Linked DNA regions of Homo sapiens: all the other regions are reported to be linked to region 2. The links are microRNA targets in miRTarBase. Many come from high-throughput screens and were not tested one by one. Region 2 holds a microRNA gene; each other region holds the end of a gene's coding sequence.
Evidence for each region. Region 2 holds the annotated microRNA hsa-miR-3179 (AGAAGGGGUGAAAUUUAAACGU, at 2,074-2,095, shown strand). A microRNA usually pairs through its seed, bases 2 to 8, with sites in the 3' UTR of a target mRNA and lowers its output. Matches are read on the target gene's strand: a 7mer-m8 pairs with bases 2 to 8, a 7mer-A1 pairs with bases 2 to 7 and ends in A, and an 8mer does both.

Region 1 (3,264 bases), not on the chromosome of region 2:
CCCATCCCAGAACTGGATCTGTCGGAGCTGGAAGGCCTGGGTCTGTCAGATACAGCCACCTACAAGGTCAAAGACAGCAGCGTTGGCAAAATGATCGGGCAAGCAACTGCAGCAGACCAGGAGAAAAACCCTGAAGGTGATGGCCTCCTTGAGTACAGCACCTTCAACTTCTGGAGAGCTCCCATTGCCAGCATCCACTCCTTCGAACTGGACTTGCTCTAAGGCCAAGACTTCTCTCTCCCATCACCTTGCCCTCATTGTCTTCCCTCTCAAGCCCCTTCCTTTCCACTCCTTTCCCATTTTAATCTTGTTCTCTCCCTACTGTGTTGGTGGTGCTGATGAATCTGCCAGAGTTGAGTTCTATGTATTTATTTATCTATCTGTCTACTCCATTTCTCTCAAAAGCCCTCAAGTCACAAAGTAAATGGTTCAAGCAATGGAGTACTGGGTCACAGGGATTCCTCCTTTCCCCCCCAAATATTAACTCCAGAAACTAGGCCTGACTGGGGACACCTGAGAGTAGTATAGTAGTGCAAAATGGAAGACTGATTTTTGACTCTATTATAATCAGCTTCAGAGATTCCTTAAACCTTCCTAATTTCCTGCTCCAGGGCAGTAAACACAAATATTTCTTCAAGGGGTGATGAAAACCTCGGAAGTTTTAATTTGAGGTTATCTGCTACGAAACAGTATTTCTAAAAGGCTAAAGTGATAAGTCTCTTGCTTTTTTTTGATCCTGCTCTTATATTCTTTTTTTTCCTCAGAGAAATCAGGAGGGTAGTTAGAGGTATAAAACAGGAGGAAATATTATGGAAAATGAAAATAGGGAAAATAATTGAATCATTTTAGAAGTAGCTAATTTCTTTTCTCAAAAGAGTGTCCCTTCTTCACACCTACTCACTTTACAACTTTGCTCCTAACTGTGGGTTGAAAACTCTAGCTAAAGAAAGTTATCAAATCTTAACATGCATTCCTACTATTATGATAGTTTTTAAGGTTTCAATTCAATCTTCTGAACGGCATAAGTCCTATTTTAGCCTTACCTCCTGCATTTGCAATACGTAATACTGATCAGTGGGCACAGTTCTTCAGCTACATTGAGACCCTGAAATGAACAATTATATTCTGACTCGACATCTTGTCCCCAATCCTTCCAAAAATATTGATGGTGATTTGTGCTACCATTTACTCGTTTATTTAATAAAGACATTCAATCCCAGGACTGGAGTCTAATTTTCTCTCTTCACAAGAAAAGCCACAGAAATCTGAGAAATTAGCCTTGCTTTCACACTTAGCTTATACATCTTTTTTTTCTTTTTTATTTTTGAGACAGGGTCCCACTCTGTCACCCAGGCTGGAGTGCAGTGGCGGGGATCACCGCTCACTGCAACCTCCACCCACCAGGGTCAAGGGATCCTCCCACCTCAGGCTCCCAGGTAGCTGGGATTACAGGCGCCTGCCACCAGGCCTGGTTAATTTTTGTATTTTTCATAGAGACGGGGTTTCACCATGTTGGCCAGGCTGGTCTCTAACTCCTGACCTCAGGTGATCTGCCCGCCTTAGCCTCTCAAAGTGCTGAGATTACAGGCGTGAGCCACTGAGCCCGGCCTCATTTTATCTTTCTATAATAATATTCAACTTAGAGGAAGAATGATTTGAGTAGCATTTAGACATTAGATGGTGAACTTCGCATTGAACAGATAATGAAAGGGCAAAATCAACTTAAAATTAGAAAAGTAGTTAGGGAGACAGGTACAACCACTCTTCTGCTTGCCCACTGACTACCAACATTATATTTCAGGTAATAATTCTCCTAGGTGCCTAAGAAGATAAACGAATTCACTCAAATATGTTATCTGCTTAACTTCTGGTTTTTGTGTGCCTGCTATAGGAAAGCACTGAGCCAAACAGAATGTAAACGGGAATGAGACAAGACTCCAACTCTCAAAAGAGAAACTGTAAATACCAATATGGATAGGACAGAATTGGGCAGTGTACTATAAATAAGGATGACACTATACCCTAAATAAGGATGATCTAGAGAAGTCCCCAGGTGGGAGAAAAAAAGACAAATCCTCCCTCTAGGCCATGAAAAGCCCACATCTAAAGACGGTCCCAGTCTAACGAAGAATGGGGCCAGGAAGGATAAGTAGTGCGTCCTTTTCTATTTTTACTGAGTTTTGAAGGGCCCCTTCAGAGTCCTTCAGCCATGGCAATTGGTGGGTGGAGACAGGGATCAACTGTTTGGTAAATAAAGTGACTAAATGGATTTGCAAACTCATGCTCCATCCTCTTGCAGGCCTCCAAAAAGAAATGACTCAGGCCGGGCGCGGTGGCTCACGCCTGTAATCCCAGCACTTCGGGAGGCCGAGGCGGGCCAATCACTTGAGGTCAGGAGTTCGAGACCAGCCTGGCCAACATGGTAAAATAAAACCCCATCTCTACTAAAAATACAAAAATTAGCCCAGCGTGGTGGCGGACGCCTGTAATCCCAGCTGCTGGGGAGGCTGAGGCAGGACAATCACTTGAACCCGGGAGGCAGAGGTTGCAGCGAACCGAGGTCACGCCACTGCACTTCAGCCTGGGCGACGGACGAAGCGAGACTCCGTCTCAAAAAAAAAAGGCCGCGCGCGGTGGGTCACGCCTGTAATCCCAGCACTTTGGGAGGCCGAGGCGGGTGGATCACGATGTCAGGAGATCGAGACCATCCTAGCTAACACGGTGAAACCCCGTCTCCACTAAAAATACAAAAAAATCTCCGGGCGTGGTGGCGGGCGCCTGCAGTCCCAGCTACTCCGGAGGCTGAGGCAGGAGAATGGCGTGAGCCCGGGAGACGGAGCATGCAGCGAGCCGAGATCGAGCCACTGCACTCCAGCCTGGGCGACAGAGCGAGACTCCGTCTCAAAAAAAAAAAAGAAAGAAAGAAAAGAAATGACTCAGTTATTTGTTTCACTGTTCTCACTGACAGCTTGGCTCTGGGGTCCTTACATTCGGCCTGTAACTGGAAAAATGTGTCCATCAGGCACCAGAACCCAATGCACAAAGCCAGGAACGTCCCAAACAGCTGCAGCCGAGGTTGGGATAAGGAAACGAGGCTTTCCTGTCAAACTAAACCTGGCCGCCCCGGACCCCGAAGAAGCAGCCAAGAGTTAAGACGCAATCTGCATGACTGACGCACGCTCCGAGTCTCCCTCAGCAGTTCGCCAGGTTCTTGGCGCCAACACCAGACCTAGGATCCGTCCCCTGCTGGAACTATTCAGACGC
Region 2 (4,666 bases):
CGTGAGTGAGCCAGCTTGGAAGCGAATTTCCCCGCCCCGGTCAAGCCTTCTGGTGAGTGCAACTGCAGATGACATCTGACTTCCACCACTCAAGAGACCCCAGGTCAGTGCTGCCCAGCTGAGCTCTTCCCAGGTTCTTTATGTCCCCCGAAAATGAGCTGTTTTAAGTTTAGAAAACTTAAAAACACAGTGACAATGAAGCACAGATATGCATTACATACAGTCCCAAATCAGTAATGACTTCAAGCTGTGTCCTCTCTTTCCAAGAAAGACAAAGCAGAGAACAAAGTTCAACCTACAGTGTCTTCCCAAATTCTTGACCCACGGGATCTGTGAATATCTTATACGACTGAATTAAGCCTCTAAGTTTTGGGGTAACTCATGCAACATTAGGTAACTGGAATAGTGCTCAATAAATGTCTGTCACATGAATGGGCAGTGACCATGGATGCATTTCTAGTTGTGTATTAGTTAAGGCTCTCTTGGTTTCAAGTAACAGAAATCCAACTCCAACTAGCTTGAGCAAAATGGGGCATTCCTCTGGTCAAGTAACGGAGAAATCCAAGAGTCTCTGGCTTCATGCATAGCGGGACCCAGTCTCAATTTCCACCTCCTGGCTCTGCTTCCCTTGATGCCAACTTTCAGGAATCAGCTTTCTGAAAGACCACTCTGCTAGAAACAGACAGGCCCATCCTTTCAACCAGGTCCAGGACTGTTTGCTCAGTCACTGCTCTCAGAGGCAGGGGCAGAGGCAGATGCCGGGCACACATCCACAGAAGTGGAGATGGCAGGAAACTGAGAGTGGAGTGCTGGAAAGCTGGCTTTTGCCTATGGGTTCCGCTTCTGACATCATCCGGCAATGTCAGGCTTTACATTGCCCCCATCTGCAGACCCAGCAGAAGGACAGCTTCCATCCCACCACATCAATATGCCAGTCCTGGGGCGGGGGAAGGACTTATGGGCAACCTTTGCAGAATCACTGGGGCCTGGCCGCACATGAGCCATGCCCACGCTCATGTGACAGGCGGCCCCTGTGCCTGGGGTGCTGTATTACCCAGAGGAATAAGTGATCCTGGGTGGGCAAAAGCAACAGAAGAGAAGTCAGCTCCACTTCCTTCCAAAACTTGAGAAGGCCTGGTCAAAATCACCCTCCAGGCCCGGTGTGGTGGCTCATGCCTGTAATCCCAGCACTTTGGGAGGTTGAGATGGGCAGATCATGAGGTCAAGAGATCGAGACCATCCTGGCCAATATGGTGAAACCCCGTCTCTACTAAAACTACAAAAATTAGCTAGGTGTGGTGGTGGGCGCCTGTAGTCCCAGCCACTCGATAGGCTGACAGGAGAATCACTTGATCCAGGGAGTCGGAGGTTGCAGTGAGCCGAGATCGCACCATTGCACTCTAGCCTGGCGACAGAGTGAGACTAAAAAAAAAAAAAAAGAAAAAAGAAAAAAATCAGCCTCCATTTTTGGCTTTCTCTTTCATTAGAAAAATGAACCTGACTTTATGACCATGACAATGAAATGCCTAGAGAAGGGAGCACTCATTTTCCAGTGGGCCTACTGTGTGCTGGGGTGGCGAGACTCTTCCTGCCCTGGAACTTGGTGAGGTCAGGAGGGAAGATATTATATGACTGCCTTCCTCTGTACTTTTTCAGTGGGGGCAGGTGTTTATGCTTGATGATGCAATGGTGAGATCTTGGTTGGAATATGAACTTTTCTTTCTTTTTTTTTTTTTAGATGGGTTCTTGTTCTGTTCCCCAGGCTGGAGTACAATGGCACCATCACAGCTCACTGCAGCCTTGATCTCCCAGGGTCAAGGGATCATCGTGCCTCAGCCTGCTGAGTAGCTGGGACTACAGGAGTGCACCACCACACCTGGCTAATTTTTTTAAAAAAAATCTTTGTAGAGATGAGCTCTCACTAGGTTGCCCAGGCTGGTCTTGAACTCCTGAGCTCAAGCAATCCTCCCACCTTGGGCTCCCTAAGTGTTGGGATTACAGGCAAGAGTCACCACGCCCAGCCAGGATCACAGACGTTTAAATTACACTCCTTCTGCTGTGCCTTACAGCAGTAGAAGGGGTGAAATTTAAACGTCTGTGATCCTGGGGTTGTTGAAGATGCCACCCATCTACATATTCTTTCAGATGCACAATATTTCACTGTGTGAATGAAACAGCAGCCCTTCTTACGTGTGCTTTTTGGAATTTGAAGATTTTGTAAGATAAGATGAATGCATTGGAACAAGTGATCCTCAATTCTGTGCAGTCTGTGCCTCCGGAGACTGGCGGCTGCCCCTCCCTGTCTAGTCTTGCAAGAGAGGCAGCTGGCAAGAGGACAGAAGCCGGCAGCTGCTGCGTTTTCATCCTGTTTCTGCTCTTGGAGCTGAGGGGGAGAGGTGGCTAGCAGCCACCCAGTGATCAAACTTGCAGCCTGCCTCTCTTGCTTCCTTTTCACAGACTGGAGTGTGCCTGGGTATGGAGAAAGAACATTTTGCTTCTTGCCTCTCAGAGTTTCAAGAACGCCTCACCTGAGTGGCATGCATTCATGGAATGAGTAATTATTACAGTGGAGAACTCCTCACTGTGAATTAATTACACAGATGATATTCAAGACTTAGACTGGGCTAGTGCAGGGGTTAGCAAACTATGGCCCACTGTTCTTGTTTTATAAATAAAGTGTTATGAGCACACAGCCATGCCCATTCATTTGCAGATTATGGCTGCTTTTGCCTGACAGTGCCAGATGTAAGTAGTTGTGGCAAAGACCAGGTAGCCTAAAAAGCCTAAAATACTTGCTATCTGGGTCTTTACAGAAGACATTTTGTTGTTGTTGTTGTTGTTTTTGAGATGGGGTCTTTCTCTGTCACCCAGGCTGGAGTGCAGTGGTGTGATCTCAGCTCACTGCAACCTCCGCCTCTTGGGTTCAAATGATTATCGTGCCTCAGCCTCCCTAGTAGCTGGGATTATAGGCGCCTGCCACCAAGCCTGGCTAATTTTTGCATTTTTAGTAGAAACAGGGCTTTACCATGTTGGCCAGGCTGGTCTCAAACCCCGACCTCAGATGATCTGCCTGCCTCAGCCTCCCAAAGTGCTGGGATTACAGGTGTGAGCCACTGCGCCTGGCCTAGAAAATGTTTTCTAACCTGTTGTCTAGTGGGTGCTTTGTAAAGTTTAGTTTTAGGGGGAGCATCATTAATTCATTCAACAAGTATTAACTGAGCATCTCCCCTGTGCTGGGTGCTGCTTGGCATACTGGGGGTTTAGTGGTGTGAGAGAGACCGAGCCTCAGCTCTTAGGAGCACAGTGCTGATGGAGGACGAAAGGTAAACACACACATTAGAAGTTGTTGGATAATGCCAGGCGTTACGAAGAAAAGAAGCAGAACAAGGCAATGTGACAGAGGATGATTGGTATCATGGAAGGTCTCTCTGAGGAGGCAGCATCTGAGCTGAGACCTGAGGAGGGGAAGGGCCAGTTATGCAAAGATCTGGGGGAAGAGCTGCCCAGGCAGAGGGGACCATAATTGCAAAGGCCCCCAGGAGGAAATGAGCTCCCTGAGTTTCAGGAATAGCAAAGAGGCCAGGGTGGCCAGAGTCAAGTGATTGAGAGGAAGAGATGAGAACGATGGCAGGGACCGGGTCATGTGGGTGCCCTGGAAAGGAGTTTAGATTTTATTCTAATGGCAACAGAAGGCATTGGAGGGTTTAAGTAGGGAAAGGGGAGTGATCTGATGTATGTTTTTAAACAATTGCTTCTTTAAATTTTGAGGAGATTGGATTATTGGGAAGCAAGAATGAATTTAGGGAGAGAAGCAAAGAGGACGTTGTGTTGGTTTAGGCAAAAGACAGCAATGGCTTGGATTGGGGTGATGGAAGTAACAGTGGCAGGAAGTGGTGAGCTTGGGGCTATGCTTCAGAGATAGAGCAGAAAGGTCTTGCTGATGTATTTAATACAGGAGGTGAGGGAAGGGAGGAATCAACGATAAGTGAATCGTTTGTTTCTAGCTGAACCACTGAAATGTGTAGGTAAATTGAGACTTCTGTTTTGGCCATCGTGAGTTTGAGATGCTTATCAGACACCCGAGTCTGCAGCCTGGGTGAGAAATCACGGCTGGAGATGAGACGTGGTGAGCTGGGAGTGTTTTTGGATGACAGATGAGGCCACGGGATTGAATAATAGGTATCCTTATGAAGACTGAGAAAAGGAGAGGGCTGGGGGCCAAGCCCTGGGACAGTGCAACCTTCAGAGGATGGGCGAGGAGGGCCCTGCCCAAGAGACAGAGAGGAAGTGGCCCGTGAGGTAGGGGGAAGTCCAGGAGAGGACAGTGTGGTGAATACCTAATGCTTTACTCATTCACTGGTGAATGAATGGATGGATGGATGGATGGATGGATGGATGGATGGATGAATGCATGAATATTCCTTAATAATATGGTTGGCCATGGTCCATCCATATGACTCCTACGGACACCATGTTACCATTTCACACTCGTCTTCTATTTAGGAGAAATCAGACGAAACTGCCATCTTATATATAGGTCAAAAATGGTTTCCATAACCACCCACCTCACATGCTTACTGAAATTCATTAAGTAATAGATGGGGTGGGGGGCGGGAGGTTTACAGGTCGGCAAAGGAGGCAAGGCTAGAGTGATCCATGTGGCAGT
Region 3 (4,666 bases), not on the chromosome of region 2:
CCACGCTGGCAAGTGCCAGTCCTGGAATTTGAACACGCGTCTGACTCTGAAAGCCTGTGCCTTTTCTGCTGCTGTCCGAGGCTCCCTCTGGGTAGAGCCAAGGGAGCAGGCATTTGAGGCCCCAGCCAGGCGAGGGCATGGAGAAGGGGGATGCTGGGCGTGCAGGGGCAGACGGGCCAGCTGAGTTCTGGGCCTCAGGGCAGGGCTTAAGGCCAGGCTGGCGCCTGGGGTGACCTGGTCTCCTTGCTTCCAGGCCTGGGGTGTGCTGGCTGCCGTCATGCCCTCTGTGTCTCCAGCGGGGCCCTCGGCCGGGGCAGTCCCCAATGCCACCGCAGTGACAACAGTGCGGACCAATGCCAGCGGGCTGGAGGTGCCCCTGTTCCACCTGTTTGCCCGGCTGGACGAGGAGCTGCATGGCACCTTCCCAGGCCTGTGGCTGGCGCTGATGGCGGTGCACGGAGCCATCTTCCTGGCAGGGCTGGTGCTCAACGGGCTGGCGCTGTACGTCTTCTGCTGCCGCACCCGGGCCAAGACACCCTCAGTCATCTACACCATCAACCTGGTGGTGACCGATCTACTGGTAGGGCTGTCCCTGCCCACGCGCTTCGCTGTGTACTACGGCGCCAGGGGCTGCCTGCGCTGTGCCTTCCCGCACGTCCTCGGTTACTTCCTCAACATGCACTGCTCCATCCTCTTCCTCACCTGCATCTGCGTGGACCGCTACCTGGCCATCGTGCGGCCCGAAGGCTCCCGCCGCTGCCGCCAGCCTGCCTGTGCCAGGGCCGTGTGCGCCTTCGTGTGGCTGGCCGCCGGTGCCGTCACCCTGTCGGTGCTGGGCGTGACAGGCAGCCGGCCCTGCTGCCGTGTCTTTGCGCTGACTGTCCTGGAGTTCCTGCTGCCCCTGCTGGTCATCAGCGTGTTTACCGGCCGCATCATGTGTGCACTGTCGCGGCCGGGTCTGCTCCACCAGGGTCGCCAGCGCCGCGTGCGGGCCATGCAGCTCCTGCTCACGGTGCTCATCATCTTTCTCGTCTGCTTCACGCCCTTCCACGCCCGCCAAGTGGCCGTGGCGCTGTGGCCCGACATGCCACACCACACGAGCCTCGTGGTCTACCACGTGGCCGTGACCCTCAGCAGCCTCAACAGCTGCATGGACCCCATCGTCTACTGCTTCGTCACCAGTGGCTTCCAGGCCACCGTCCGAGGCCTCTTCGGCCAGCACGGAGAGCGTGAGCCCAGCAGCGGTGACGTGGTCAGCATGCACAGGAGCTCCAAGGGCTCAGGCCGTCATCACATCCTCAGTGCCGGCCCTCACGCCCTCACCCAGGCCCTGGCTAATGGGCCCGAGGCTTAGTCAGCAGGGCTCTGCCAGGGGCCGAAGGTCAGGACTCATCTGGGCATGCCAGCGTGGACACCCACCATGCCAGGGGTGGCAATCGGTTCCATCTCGATTGATTGGTGATGGCTACCCAGAGCACCGCATTGAGCGTCTAAGGCCACTGTGCTGTGGTTGATTAGCAATGTCTGCCACTGGCTCCGATGGGATGTGGTGGCCTGAATGCCGGTGATTTGCTGTTCCTGGGGTATAGCACGTCCACTGAAAACTCACAGGGGTAGCCGGGAGCTGCTCCTCACTTTGGCCAGTTTGTCTCCAGAAGGAGTTCCTCAGAAAAAAGGGCACAGTGGATTCCATTGATTAGAAGGATGAGATGAAAAAGAAAAAAGAAAAAAGGACAAAGATTATTTAGGTGCTGGGAATTCCCAAGAGAGTTAAGAAACAACCTGAATTCCCGAGAGAGCTAACAACAACAATGCTCCCTCCAACACACACACAGGAGGAAGGACAAGGACAGAAAGAAAAGGCCAGGGAGCATTCGTGTTGCATTAATGGAGGTGGGGGGGGGTGCATGTCTCTGCAAGACCCCCCCACCTGAGGCCTCCGTGAATTGCACGATAAAACGGCAGACACCCACAGGCCGCTCTGCTGTGAGCAAGCACTGTGATATCTAGGTTGACACTTGAACCCACAACAACCCACAAAGGAGACGCTACTTTTCATCCATTTCTTGGTGCTGGAGGGGTCAAGTGACACACACAGGGGCCACAGCTGGGAAATGGCAGGGTCAGAATGAAAACCAGCCCCACCTCCTCCAGTGCCCTTGCACCTCCTTCCACAGAGAGTGCACGATCATCCCAAAGCCCCCACTCTAGGAATGGCCTCAGAATGGCTCACCTGCTGCCCCAGGTAGAGGCAGTGTTCACAGCCCCATCCTATGGATAAGAAAACCAAGAACAAAGTCACGCAGCAGTGAACCCAGGCATGCCGGGTTGTGGCCACCATCTCCCCATGCAAACAGCCATTTTCCTCCCCCCGGGGGCAGAGAGGACGTGACCAGCTGCTCTGGCCCAGCTCACTATGAGTCCCCATGCCTTCACTAGGGAGGGAGCTTTTCTCTGGCTGGGGCCTCTGATCATCTCCTCAGAGCTGGACTCCAGGATTTCCTCCCACGTGCCTTCTGCCGAGCGTCCAAGCTCCCAGCCCTTTCAGGACTGGTAATGGGGAAGGGAGCCTGTGGTGAGGAAGAGGAGTGTGGGGCATCCCTGGCACTTCCGGCTCTGAGGCCCTGCCATCAGACCTGGCCATAGCCACTGAAGCAGGCGAGATGGGCTCAGGTCCTCAGGCCAGGCCTTTGGCTACAGAGAAGTCCTACACACTCAGGGTGACCGTGGCCTGTGTGGCTGGGAGCAGGAGGGGGAGGAGGAGGAAAAGGCCGGGGCTCCCCGATTCAGCTCGAGGCAGAGTCTCCTGACCCCAGTTTAGGGTCCTGGACTTTATATCCCCATGTTACAAATGAAGAAACTGAGGCTCAGAGGGAGAAAGGGGCTTGCCAAGGTCATAGAGTGAGTGCCTGAGTCATCCAAGGCCAGTATTGTCCTCACCAACCCCAGCTGTGGCCATGTGGAGCAGCTGGGGTGGGGGGCACCGGCCCAGAGGAGTCAGAGGCGTGCCCCGCAAGGTGGTGGAACTGGGAGTGCTGCCAGGGTTACTTCCTCCCTGGGTCCGGATGCCCGAGAAGCAGTGGGTATCACCATGGCCGCCAGCATTCTTGATACTTACCAGGCACCAGGCACAATTCTGGAACCTTCCCCCAGCCCCCAGCTCTCGGGTGCTGCTCAGAGAGGGGCCGTGGCTTACCAGGGATGCAGGGTTCCACAAGGCAGAGGGGCCCAGCGTTCAGGAAAGGACGTGGCTGGGGGACAGGGCTGTGCATGCAGAAAAACCCCGCTGACCACAGGTGCAGCATTCACGGCGACTTTCAGGCAAGCAGGCACCAACAGCCAGCGAGCCATCATTCCCAGGGCTGCGAGCTGGCACCCACGTGGTCACATGCCTAGAGCTGAGGAGTGAGGGGTCAGGGCTCAGGTGTCCTGCCCAGCCCAAGCCATGAGCTTCTTCCAGGCTCATGTGGCCCAGCAGTCCCTGAATGGCCTTGCTTACCTGGGACCCCTCCACCCACGCTCACAAGTCATCCAGGGCCAGGGACTCTGGACTCCATTCCTCCAGGAGCTGTGGATCCTCTTGCTCCATCTTAGGGGGCGCCCCAAGCCCCAGAGACTACCTGCCGGCTCCCACTCCCGCCCCTCAAGCAAGCTCTGCACGTGGCCTAGAGTATGACACCCCTCTGCCCTTGGTCCCGCACTGTACTGTGAAGACCTCTCCAGCCCAGGGCTGCAAGGAGGCAGGGGCCAGCGGGAAGGAGTGCTAAGATGAGGGGGAATGGCCTGGGCAAAGGTAAGGCCAAGCGCCCGCCTCGCTGGGGCCAGTGAAGGGCCTTCCATGCAGCTTCCCAGCCCCTCCCCTCCCCTACCAGTCTTCCCGGCCCCTTCCCCGCCAGTCTTCCCTGCCCCTCCTCCACCGGTGTTACGTGCCCCTCGGGCCTTTGGCCTCCCCATCAATGACCCCCAGCCTGGCTCCATTCCTGGTTGTCACTCTAATTCACGCTAAAGAGTGAATGGCTGACACTTGAGGATTGCTGTGCTTGAAGAGGCAGGGCTTGCAATTTTTCTGGAACAATCCCTTTCTTCAGGAGGAGGGGTCTCTAAGGCAGGTGAGCCAGGTCCCCTCCTTGTCCCCACATCTGAAATCCAATCATTCAACTTGGGTTCCTCGGGCCTCAGAGGCTTCTCAGACTGTAAGAGGCCGGGAGGGGAAGGACATCCTGTCCGAAGCGGCAAGTGCGTCCACTACCACTCATGCTGGAGAGGACAGGCCGCCTGTCTTCTGTGGCCAGGGACACAGGCTTGGGGCCCACCCTCAGACCTCTGAGAACTGCCTGCCAGCCCCCGATGCAGAACCCTTGATAGGCAAGCCTCAGTTTCTCCACACCCCACTCCTCTTTCTCCTCTCCTCAGCCTTACAGCTGGAGGGCAGGGGGCTGGGGAAGGGGGTCACCCCAATGCCCTGGACTGGGCCCCACAGCTCCCCCGGCTGCTTGCTTCCTTCTCCTGACGGCCGGCTCCTTCCCACTTCAGCCTCCTCTGTGGGCACCGAGGCCCAGGAGCTTCAAAAGTCAGACCAAGACTGTCCTTGGTCCCACAGGGGCAGAGGTGAGATCTGTGCGTGCCCCCTCTCCACACTCACGGGGACAGGGCGTGAGATCTTTGC
Region 4 (4,666 bases), not on the chromosome of region 2:
TTTGCCTGACACATCGTTGCTTCAGGTAAGAGGGGGGCAGGTATTAGATATTGGGGGATAGGGTAGGGAGAATGATTTTGTGGGGGTTGATATATTTCTCCCTGTTTCCCGACAGGTACGCCAGGATCTGCCATCCCCTTCGGATTTTTATTCTACTCCTCTGCAGCCTGGTGGCCAAAGTGGCTTTCTCCCTTCAGGGGCTCCTGCCCAGCAGGTATATTGTATCTTCACACTTCCCCTTCATTTGATTTCTCTGTCCAGTTGCTGGCTTTGATTTTCCCTGGTTTTCTGACATTCCTCCCTGCCCCCAACATGCACACCCAAATTTCTTGTTACAGATGCTTCTACCCATGGTAGACTCACAGCTGCCTGTGGTGAACTTTGGCTCCCTGCCGCCAGCACCACCTCCTGCCCCACCTCCCCTTTCTCTGTTACCTGTGGGCCCTGCTCTGCAGCCCCCCAGCCTGGCTGTGCGGCCCCCACCTGCTCCTGCTACTCGGGTGCTGCCTTCACCTGCCAGGCCCTTCCCCGCTAGCTTGGGGCGAGCAGAGGTAAGGTACAGGAACTGAGGGGCTAGGGAGCGCCAAGACTTGGGAGTAGGGATTCTGTATTTCAAGGTAGGCAGCTCATGATTTTTTTCCCCTCAGCTGCATCCAGTGGAACTAAAGCCGTTCCAGGATTATCAAAAACTGAGCAGCAACCTTGGGGGACCTGGATCATCACGGACTCCCCCAACTGGAAGGTGAAACGGAATAGGGATGTGGACTTTCCAAGTGCTTCCTTACTTTGGAACCAGGGTCTGGATCCTAGGCTTGCCTTAGACGCCCTTCTTCCCTTAGGTCCTTCTCTGGCCTCAATTCCCGTCTCAAGGCCACGCCTTCCACCTACAGTGGAGTCTTCCGCACCCAGCGCGTCGACCTTTACCAGCAGGTGAAGGAGAAACCCTTGTGGCCCCAACTCTAAATTCGAGTTGCCACCTGATTTCCTGTCCTTCCGTCTCATCGCTGACCTCTCACTGTGACTCACTGTTTAACACATGCCTGTCCCCTAGGCCTCCCCACCAGATGCCCTGCGCTGGATACCTAAGCCTTGGGAGCGGACAGGGCCGCCACCTCGAGAAGGGCCCTCCCGACGGGCAGAGGAGCCTGGGTCCCGAGGGGACAAGGAGCCTGGGTTGCCCCCACCCCGCTGAGGGAGTTCCTCTTGCCCCCTACCCCCGGGGCTTGTATATAGATTATAAATATATAAGGGGGAAAGGGGTGGGCGGGGAGGGGTTCTGGGGCTGGGGCCTCACTTCCCCTCCTCCCCCTTCCCCTGGTCCCCTGTCCCTGGGGCTGTTTGTTAAAAAAGAGTAATAAAAGGATTTAAAAAAAAAAACTTCTACAATGATTTGGGGGATGAGTTGTTTGCATTGTCTTAAAGCATGGTGCTGAGTGATCTGTAGTTTCAGTCAGGGAAATATTCATTACTTATTCCAGTGAGCTGTTGAAACTAAAAACATGACCATCGTATTGGATCTTTAAATTTTTGTGAGTCTGGAATTTGGGCTGAGCTCAGCTGGATAAATCTGCTTTTTTGTGCCAGTGAGCGAGGTCAACTGGTTATCAGTCTGCAGCTGACACCTGGGCTGGTCCCAATATGGCTTCCTTTGCATATCTAGGGCCTTGGTGGGACATCTGTAACATTACTGGGTTATCAACCAGTGTCTTCACATGGACTCTCCAGCAGGCCTGTTAAATGTCCGTGAGCTCATGTTCCAAGAGGTCTAGCTGGAATTTTCTAAGCTTATGCCATGCTTAGTTGATAAGAGCACTAAACTAGCCAAGGTAGGGGATGGGGGGGTTTAGAAGGGACTTCAACTGCATCTCAAAGGGACTAGCAAAGAATTTGCAGCCATGGGACTTCAGTTCTTTATGATGAACTAAGGGGAAATCTCTGTTAAGGCCTCAATGTTGGAGCACACTTAAGGGGCTCTTTGAATTGGATAGACCAATTCCAGCATTGTCAAACTAAGTGGGATTTCACATGGTAACGCTGCATGCTAGTTATGCTAAAGACTATACTTAGGTCTGCAGCTGCTCAGAAACTTTTTTTGATGGGTAATTTGAGAGCTCTATGCTAGTGTGCACCTGGAATATGCTCCCAACTCAAAATACAGGTTTTTTATTTATATATAAAGTGCTTTCGCACAAAAAATACAAACATCAGGCTGGGCGCGGTGGCCCACGCCTGTAATTCCAGCACTTTGGGAGGCCAAGGCGGGTGGATCACAAGGTCAGGAGTTCGAGACCAGCCTGGCCAATATGGTGAAACCCTGTCTCTACTAAAAATACAAAAATTAGCCGGGCGTCGTGGCGGACGCCTGTAGTCCCAGCTACTCAGGAGGCTGAGGCATGAGTGAGAATCACTTGAACCCGGGAGGTGGAGGTTGTAGTGAGCCGAGCTCGAGATCGGGCCACTGCACTCCAGCCTGGGAGACAGCAATACTCTGTCTCAAAAAAAAAAAAAAACAAACATCAAAACTGGCTTGTACAATTTAGCGTGCTGAGTAGAACACAACAGTGTTCCAAGGAAGTATTAATTTAAAAAAGTTCACACAAGATTAAGGGACACACTACCTAATGGAGACAATGTAGAGAGAAAGCAGCCAGAAAAATCCGACTTTTATTTCTTAAATACTGTGAAGGAAGAGGGGGGAAACGGTCCCCTGATGAGGAAGGGCCATAGAGCAAAGAGCTAAGGATCATCAGCAAAGGCCCGCTGGGCATTGGGGAAGCGCTGGGGACTGTAGTTGGGGTCTTCCTGCAGTCGTTTTTGTATATCAGACCGGAGCTAAAGAGAAAAAGTAAGCAGGTTGGAGAAACGCTGGCCAAGTCCCCATGATCCCAGCAAGCACACAAGGCCATCCCTCAGAAGCTAACATTTCCCCCCCCAAGCACACTGTCAAATAGCCCGGGGTGGCACTGTCAAGCCTTCCCAGATGCCAAAGGGGAAAACAAATGGTAGCACCAGGCTGACCAGTTCATCGCTGAAGGGATCCAGGGAAGAGGGACCCTAGCCCAACCCCTCCCACTAGACCATCCCTATTCTGCTTCAAGGTGGCACCTGCTGCCTGTAGCTCTCCTGAACCTCTGGTGCCTCCAGGTCCCGGCTCAGGCTCTCGGGGCTCGTCAGGGGCCGAGCTCCGGCTGCCTTAGCTGCCCGGCTCACAGCCTCTGAGAGAAGCAGCTGGGGGCCCTCACCCTGCATCGTCTGGGGGACAGGGGGTTGGGAGGGAAAAGAGGATCAACGTCAGATCCAGTGCCACCATCCGGCTCACCCTTTCCATGAGTCAACCACTCCACTGAGTCTCCATGCTAGTGGAGAGAGGGGAAATTAAGAGTCCAGGATGTGGTTTTTACAGCAGAAATGCCTTCCTAATTCTCTTTGGCACTAGCCAAAACTAAAGTGAATGTGCTTGAACGTGCTCTTCAAAACGAAAGGCAGAAGGGGTCAAGCCATCCGGGATTCAGAGCTAGGTAATCCACAAGAGGAAACCCACCTTAAAGGAAAATGGGATCTAAGCACATGGGGATTAGGCAGCTGAGCAACTAATACAGGACTGCTAGCAAACAGACTAAGGTCAAGTCCTGTATGGTTATGCAACAACCAAGAGCAAGTCTGAATCCCAGAAAAAGTTTCCTCATTAAACGAGGGGAGGGGAGACTGAATAACAAGAGCTCCCACCATCTCTACATAGTTTGATTCCAGGCATGACGGGGAAACCTGGATAGAGAGAGAGGCTTAGGGAAGAGGAAAACCAACCTTGCGTCTCTTGGCAGGCATACCACTGAGGTAGGCATCACTCAGAGGGGGCTGCGGTTTCACCTTCCGCTGGCTCTGAATGTCCTGCTGGATAATAGGGACCCATTCCTGGGGAGGAAAAGAGAAAATAGTAATGTCCTTGACTTTCAGCTGCCATGACCCACTGGATTACTTCCTGACACTTACTGGGGGGACTGCAGCTGCCCAAGGTTCTGTCTCAGCTGAAGCTCCATCCTGTTCATCCCGGGAGCCCCCCTCAGGAGCAGGAGGTGGACCTCGGGACATGGCCTCTTCTGCTGTTGTTCCAGGGGCTGGGGAAGCATTCTCCCGCTGGGTGTCAGATGGCGGGAAGAGCCAGGCTTCAGAATTTTTAGCCTCCAAACCTTTCTCCCCCAGCCCTCCACTCCACATTATCTGGCCCCTCAACCTCCCCCTCTCTAGAGTACCTGAGGCTCAGGGGAAGCTCTTTCTGCTCCCTGAACTTCCATTGGCTCCTCAGGAAGTGGCTGTGAAATTAAAGAACACCATACTTCCTCTCAGATCTCTCCAGTTCTCTCAAGTACCCTGACCCCATCGCCCAACAGGTCCCTTACCTGGGGGGGATCACCAACCCTGCGAACGTATCTGAGAATGGCATCAGGGCCTACAGGCATGTGCTCCAGTACCACCTGAAGCCTCAGTCCCATCATAGTGGTCAGCCAGCTCACCAAGGAGGGATTCACCCCACGAGACATACGACGCTGAGGGACAGAAAGCAGATTTAGAACACAAAACCCTCAACCACCTTTAGAAATAGATTAGATCCAGGTTACAGAATGTCAGTTTAGAAAAGAAAAATGAAAACTGCAGAGAATGGAAACCT

Region 1: the mRNA of MLLT11 is a reported target of hsa-miR-3179. Seed matches in the 3' UTR shown: 7mer-m8 at 275-281 and 8mer at 2,189-2,196.
Region 3: miRTarBase lists GPR20 as a target of hsa-miR-3179. The part of its 3' UTR that is shown has no 7-base or 8-base seed match.
Region 4: the mRNA of PRRC2A is a reported target of hsa-miR-3179. Seed matches in the 3' UTR shown: 7mer-m8 at 1,306-1,312.

The regions. Positions count from the first base shown.
Region 1 is chr1:151,067,276-151,070,539 of GRCh38, forward strand. It overlaps MLLT11 (MLLT11 transcription factor 7 cofactor), which reads left to right. Exons shown (of 2, transcript NM_006818.4): 2 at 1-2,269. The coding sequence ends at 222. Among named protein-coding and RNA genes, the nearest start is that of GABPB2, 1.9 kb to the right of the region's middle. RefSeq lists an enhancer at 3,001-3,264.
Region 2 is chr16:18,409,334-18,413,999 of GRCh38, reverse strand. It overlaps MIR3179-3 (microRNA 3179-3), which reads left to right and starts at 2,023; the gene lies at 2,023-2,106. The region is part of intron 2 of LOC112268172 (a long non-coding RNA gene); the gene reads right to left.
Region 3 is chr8:141,353,535-141,358,200 of GRCh38, reverse strand. GPR20 (G protein-coupled receptor 20) reads left to right here. Exons shown (of 2, transcript NM_005293.3): 2 at 254-1,731. The coding sequence starts at 278. The coding sequence ends at 1,354. Among named protein-coding and RNA genes, the nearest start is that of GPR20, 11 kb to the left of the region's middle. RefSeq lists enhancers at 475-1,096, 1,097-1,718.
Region 4 is chr6:31,636,395-31,641,060 of GRCh38, forward strand. It overlaps PRRC2A (proline rich coiled-coil 2A), which reads left to right. Exons shown (of 31, transcript NM_004638.4): 26 at 1-25; 27 at 116-214; 28 at 339-551; 29 at 648-742; 30 at 840-930; 31 at 1,052-1,377. The coding sequence ends at 1,192. It overlaps BAG6 (BAG cochaperone 6), which reads right to left. Exons shown (of 26, transcript NM_001387994.1): 21 at 4,398-4,544; 22 at 4,251-4,310; 23 at 3,991-4,134; 24 at 3,805-3,912; 25 at 3,106-3,252; 26 at 2,634-2,832. The coding sequence ends at 2,737. Among named protein-coding and RNA genes, the nearest start is that of MIR6832, 4.9 kb to the left of the region's middle.